Linked DNA regions of Homo sapiens. The protein of the gene in region 2 interacts with the protein of the main gene of each other region in a pairwise test. Each region holds a gene or a part of one and is shown on either strand. Other genes may lie near its edges. The genes, in order: MLH3 and GALNT12.

Region 1 (3,826 bases), on a different chromosome or scaffold from region 2:
CCTGCCTCAGCCTCCCGAGTAGCTGGAATTACAAGTACCTGCCACCATGCCCAGCTAATTTTTGTATTTTTGGTAGAGACAGGGTTTCACCACGTTGGCCAGGCTGGTCTCAAAACTCCTGACCTCAGGTGATCTGCCCGCCTTGGCCTCCCAAAGTGCTGGGATTACAGGCATGAGCCACCATGCCTGGCCCACGGACTCTTACTAAAATAACTTCTATTTATTTTTATATTTTTGTATTTTTTGTCTCAAGATCTGTTTGTGGATAAAAGATCTTGTAAGAGATTTACTTCAGTAAAAAAAAAAAAAAAAAAAAAAAAAAAAAACCCAAAAGAACACAGAATAAGTAGGATGCAAGAGGCAATGGTGAACAAAGACTCTGGTGAACACTTTTTTTAATCTAAATAAAGATTGACTATAAAATAAATGACCACCAGGGAATTAAAAACAAGGTGGAATTAAAGTACTAGACAGCAACATGGAAGATGGGAGGAGGGTGATGGGAGATGAACAGTTTGTAAGATTTTGGTACAGTTAGGAAGAGGATAGAGAAGTGAATTACTTTTAAACTTTGATAAGTATGCATGCTAAAAGTTAAGGCTAATCTCTAAAAGGATATAAATGGAATATATAACTTCTAAACGAGTAGAGCAAAAAAAAAAAGAGAAATACAGAAAACTATAATAGAAAACAGGAAAGGAGAGGAAAAAGACAATAAAGACAAAATAAATGATATTTGCTATAAAAAAAGAAACATATAAGTAATCAAAATAAAAAGTAATAGTTCTCTCTAATACCTCCAATGCCACAGCCCAGCAGTAGCTTTCCAAACCTTTACCAAAACATATATGTAAAGTAATCATATTTGGAATGCAATCTAAAATGGACCTTACTCTCCTGCTTAAAAGTTTTCACTGGCTGCCTATAGGATAAAATGCAAACTACTTAGTAGAATATGCTAAATTATTTTATGATTTGACCTTGACAACCCATCTAGCCAACTCCCATCCAGTCAAAGATCCAAGTATAACTTCTGATTTCCCCCCAATTTTTTTTTTTTTTTTTTTGAGACGGAGTCTTACTGTGTCACTCAGGCTGGAGTGCAGTGCAGTGATCTTGGATCACTGCAACCTCCACCTTCCGGGTTCAAGCAATTCTCATGCCTCAGCCTCCCAAGTAGCTGGGATTACAGGCACATACCATCATGCCTGGCTAATTTTTTAATTTTTAGTAGAGACGGGGTCTCATCATGTTGGCCAGGCTGGTCTTGAACTCCAGACCTCAAATGATCCGCCCGCCTTGGCCTCCCAAAATGCTGGGATTACAGGCGTGAGCCACTGCACCTGGCCTGATTTCCCCAAATCTTAACTACCAATAGCCTAACGTTGATCAGAAGCATTACCAATAATATAAACAGTTGATTAACACATATTTTGTGTGTTGTATATATTACACACTGTATTCTTACAATTAAGTAAGCTAGAGAAAAGAAAATGTTGGCCAGGCGTAGTGGCTCATGCCTGTAATCCCAGCACTTTGGGAGGCCAAGGCAGGTGGATCATTTGAGGTCAGGAGTTCAATACCAGCTTGGCCAACATGGTGAGACCCCATCTCTACTAAAAATACAAAAATTAGCCGGGGCATGGTGGTGTGCGCCTGTAATCCCAGCTACTTGGGAGGCTGAGGTAGGAGAATCGCTTTAACCCGGGAGGTGGAGGTTGCAGTGAGCTGAGATTGTGCCATTGCACTCCAGCCTGGGCATCGCAAAAAAAAAAAAAAAAGAAAGAAAGAAAGAAAGAAAGAAAAAGAAAATGTTAAGAAAATCATAAGAAACAGAAAATATATTTATTATTCATTAAGTGGAAATGAATCATCATAAAGGTCTTCACCCTCATCATTTTCACATTGAATAGGCTAAGGAGGAGGAAGAAGAGGAAAGGTTGGTCTTGCTGTCTCAGGAATGGCAGAGGTGAAAGAAAATCTGCATTTAAGTGTACCTGCGCAGTTCAGACCCAAGTTATCCAAGGATCAACTGTAGATCTTAATTTGAGCCATATCTATTGATAGTTCCCTAAACATAGGATGTATCTCAAGTCTCTGATATGTATTCCTCTGTCTAGAATGCCCTTCTCCCCTCTTCTGTACTCAGCACTTTCCCACTATTCTTTTTTTCTTTTTTTTTTTGAGACAGAGTTTCACTCTTGTTGCCCAGGCTGGAGTACAATGGTGCAATCTTGGCTCAATGCAACCTCCGCCTCCCAGGTTCAAGCCATTCTCCTGCCTCAGCCTCCTGAGTAGCTGGGATTATAGGCATGCACCACCACGCCCGGCTAATTTTCTATTTTTAGTAGAGATGGGGTTTTTCCATGCTTGTCAGGCTGGTCTCGAACTCCCGACCTCAGGTGAACCACCCACCACGGCCTCCCAAAGTGCTGGCATTACAGGTGTGAGCCACCTTGCCCAGCCTAGTTTCCCACTATTCTGTAAGACTTTTCTGGCTGTGTGCAGTGGCTCATGCCTGTAGTGCCGGGGGTTTGGGAAGCCAATGCAAGGGGATTGCTTGAGGCCAGAAGTTCAGGACCAGCCTGGGCAACATAGTGAGGCCCCCATCTCTACAAAAAAAAAAAAGGAAAAAATTAGCCAGGCATGGTGGTGCGTGTCTGTAGTCCGAGTTACTTGGGAGGCTGAGGCAGGAAGATTGCTTGTGCCCAGGAGATCAAGGCTACAGTGAGCTATGATTGCACCACTGCACTCCAGCTTGGGCAACAGAGTGAGACCTGGTCTCTCAAAAGTAAAAACTTTTCTTAAGAAAACAGCTTTTCTGTGACATTTTCATTGACTTCACCTCCCCAGGCACACAAGTCATTCTGTGTTTCCATAACACTTCTGAAAAACTATCTTGGTGCATTCTAGACTCTTAGTTTTCATTACCTTTATCACTGGGAAGAAAGCAAAACACATACCTCTACTAGCCAAAGTTCACTGACTATAATTCTTTAAATGCCCTTCTTCCTTATTTTGAGCTAACTCATCTCTGAATTTCTAGCTCCTGGCACACCGCAGGTAAATACCATGAATACTTGTTGAAGAAAAGATGAATTCAGAGAATCTACAGACAAAATATGAGGTTACCATCACTCAGCAATTTCCTTAACATCTGCAGCTGTGTCTTACCTCCACAATACTCTTGGTCACAGTAGATCTTCCTCTCCGAAGTTCATTGGCTTCTCTTTCCACAAAACATAGTGGTACTTTTCCCACAAGGACCAGAGAATCACTAGTGTCTGGAAATACAAATTCAAGGCCCAGATCTTCCAGATTTTTGTGGTAACACCTAAAGAGATAACCTCAAATGTTAAAAAAAAAAAGAGTGCTACTTCATTTGCACTTCACTACTGGTTCCAAATACTACTTAATAGTTTTTCAAAAGCTGCCACAGGGCTTAACAACCGTATTGTTTTTCTCACACTTATGTGTGGGTGTTTGGGATTTTTTATTATCAAATTTCCTTTTTGAATTACAGTAACCTTTATTGTTTTTCTCTTTTCCATTGGGAATCAATCTGTGTCTAAGTCTTGTTTCTAAGTGTGTTTTCTTCATTGAGGAACTGCTAACTTCTGGCTGCTGGCACTTAAGGGAGTCTGGCATGAAGAAAAGGTCTGAGAGTGATTTGAATCAGCATTAAAGCAGGGAGGTAATTAACAGCCCAAGGAATTGAGAAGTCCTGACTAACGGGATGTAAGTAAATAGATCTGCCTCTAATATAAATTATGTCATAGGGAAAAAAAGATTTACTGGCAGTATCATATTCCCAAACCTGAAACAT
Region 2 (2,782 bases):
AACCTTTGTGATGTGCTGTTCACTAAATGGAACTTTTTTCATTCAAAAAAATCCAAACTCATGTTTTGTAGAATCCAAGAAATGACATTTCAGAGGTTTTTAGGCCTACATAAGAAAATACAAGGCTGGGCACAGTAGCTCACGCCTGTAATCGCAGCACTTTGAGAGGCTGAGGCAGGTGGATCACTTGAGGCCAAAGAGCTCAAGACCAGCCTGGCCAACATGGCAAAACTCCATCTCTACTAAAAATACAAAAAATTAGCTGGGCGTGGTGGCGGGCGCCTGTAGTCCCAGCTACTCAGGAGACTGAGACAGGAGAATCGCTTGAACCCAGGAGGCAGAGGTTGCAGTGAGCTGAGATTGCACCCCTGCACTCCAGCCTTGGTGGAGCAAGGCTCCGTCTCAAAAAAAAAAAAAAAAAAAAAAGATCCAGCCCTAAGAACTAAGCTTTCTATTATGGTCTAGTGAATATAAGTGGGGACATTTCCTTCAGAATTCACATATGTTTCTGTTCAATATATATTTGTTTTATATATATATATTTAGGGCATGACTGATGAAATATAATAAATCAAGCTGTATCCTTTTCACATATGAATCAAAGTATTAAGCGTCCTGAAGAAAGGTAAAAAATCCAATTCAGTATCCTTCTTCCCAGCCTCCTGAACAAACTTCCTTTTCCTTAAATGGTCACTGAAATTTAAGATAAAATTTTTGATATGTCAAACTGATTTTATTGTTTCTAGTGTCCACTACCATTCCTTGAGGGCTTACAATGGCTTCTGGTTGGGAGAAAGATGGGAAGAGGAGGACATTCAAGAAGATCAGAGACGTCTGGGGTGTGCAGAAGTATTTTTCCTTCTTATTTTCCTGTATTCAATAGGTAACACCATGGTGTGTGGCTTTTCTGGGCAGCCTGCAAATGTCATTGCTAGTGACAACATTTTTCTGCAGGAAAACATATTCCAGCTTTTAATCATCTTTAGAATAAACCCATTTATAAGCAGTATATTGGGAGTGAAAGCTGCCCAGGGAGATAAAAAACAATGAATTTTTTTCTTTCAAATGATTTTCTTTGGATTTATTCCCTCACATGCTTTTTAGTGAGTCAAAGGATATGATCGATTTACAAGTCCTGATGCAAGCTGACTGCAAGTGTGGTGGGGCCAGCACCCTCAGGTCTGAGGTAACCCTCAGTTTCAAATCAACTGTGACTATCCAGGGAGACTACTCTATCAGAGGTGTTTTCTTGGTTATAATACCACAAGCAACAACTAATCTCTATCGAGCTTTATAGTTTCCAAAGAATATTTCTGGCTATGCATCTAATCCTCAGTAAAGTAAGTCTGCTATTATTGCACCTTTTTTTTTTTTTTTTTTTGAGACGGAGTCTCGCTCTGTCTCCCAGGCTACAGTGCAGTGGCATGATTTCGGCTGACTGCAACCTCCGCCTTCCGGTTCAAGTGATTCTCCTGCTTCAGCCTCCCAAGTAGATGGGACTACAGGGGCATGCCACCACACCTGGCTATTTTTTTTTTTAAGTAGAGATGGGGTTTTGCCATATTGGCCAGGCTGGTCTCGAACTCCTGGCTTCGGATGATCCACCTGCCTTGGCCTCCCAAAGTGCTGGGATTACAGGCGTCAGCCACTGTGCCTGGCCTATTGTACCTATTTTAAAGCTGGGAAAAACAAGGCTTAGAGAGGTGGGGTGGCTTATATCTGGATCTAACACTTTGGCTAACATCCTTACACTTGGGCTATTTGGCTTACTCATTTAAAGCCCTTTCATCTCTGAATGCATTTGTAAGAGCTGTTTCCATGTCGGTGCCTGCAGCTCATGGGGGTGCAAGGGAAATGGAAAAGACTAAAAGGGACTGGACAATGAGGAAGGAAGGCAGTGCTAATGACACCGTGTGCCAGGGGACTCCAATCTCCTGCCATCACCGCCCCCCAGGCTCACTGGGACTGAGGTTCCAGGTCTTCCAGAGCTCCTGTCCATGCATGGCCACATCCCTGATCCTCACCAGGACTATGCCAGAGAGAACGTCTGACTCTCACACTCTCCCTTATAGCCCAGGGACTGTCAGCAGGAAGGAAGGAGAGAGTTCACCTACCTCCTGCAAGATGAACTTCTGATTCTCTGGGGCAGTTTCTTCGCAGAGATGCATGATAAGGGTATCCATTCCTGCTTCCACAGCAATGCAGCCCTCAGGCTGGTGGGTGTTATAGCGTATTTCTTTCTGGGACGTGTACTCGAAAAACTAAAAATGGGGCAGCCAACATGTAACACAACATTTTCCACTGATGTGGGAAGAGGAAAGATCGCTGGACAAGAACCTGGGATCACGAGAGCATGGGTGGGGTCATGCACCTGCGTCACCACCAACACGAGCCTGTGTGATGGGTTCCTCCGCATCCCACAGCCCTCAGTGAACCGCTACTGCAGTGCTTCATGAGCGTGGAGGAAATGGCCCTTCCCATGCCTGCCCAGCTTGCTAGACAGGGAGACAGGGCTGGTGCATGTCACCTCCTGCCTGCAGTGCTGAATGCTGTGTTGGTGTGGGATGGGAGGAAGGGAAATGGACCCATCGCAGCACTAGCTCTTGGGGGCTCTCTGTGACCTTGACTAGCTACTTCCTCTCCTTTTCCTCAGTCTCTCCTCCCAAACCCCCAATATGACAGTTCCTAGAAGATGTAAAGTGCTGTGCACAAGCAGACAATGTGACCGCTAACGGGAAGACTTGGTTCTTCCCGGACAATGGTTTTCCTACCTGAGTGTACT

The links.
Region 1: the proteins of GALNT12 (region 2) and MLH3 interact in a two-hybrid assay, tested with the Homo sapiens proteins (one large-scale study listed by BioGRID and IntAct).

The regions. Positions count from the first base shown.
Region 1 is NC_000014.9:75,027,369-75,031,194, forward strand, and holds part of MLH3 (DNA mismatch repair protein Mlh3), read right to left. Parts: intron 3,348-3,826; coding exon of another isoform or gene 3,335-3,347; coding exon 3,175-3,334; exon of another isoform or gene 3,174-3,174; intron 1-3,173. UniProt on the Homo sapiens protein: Probably involved in the repair of mismatches in DNA.
Region 2 is NC_000009.12:98,845,456-98,848,237, reverse strand, and holds part of GALNT12 (polypeptide N-acetylgalactosaminyltransferase 12), read right to left. Parts: intron 2,262-2,782; coding exon 2,115-2,261; intron 1-2,114. UniProt on the Homo sapiens protein: Catalyzes the initial reaction in O-linked oligosaccharide biosynthesis, the transfer of an N-acetyl-D-galactosamine residue to a serine or threonine residue on the protein receptor.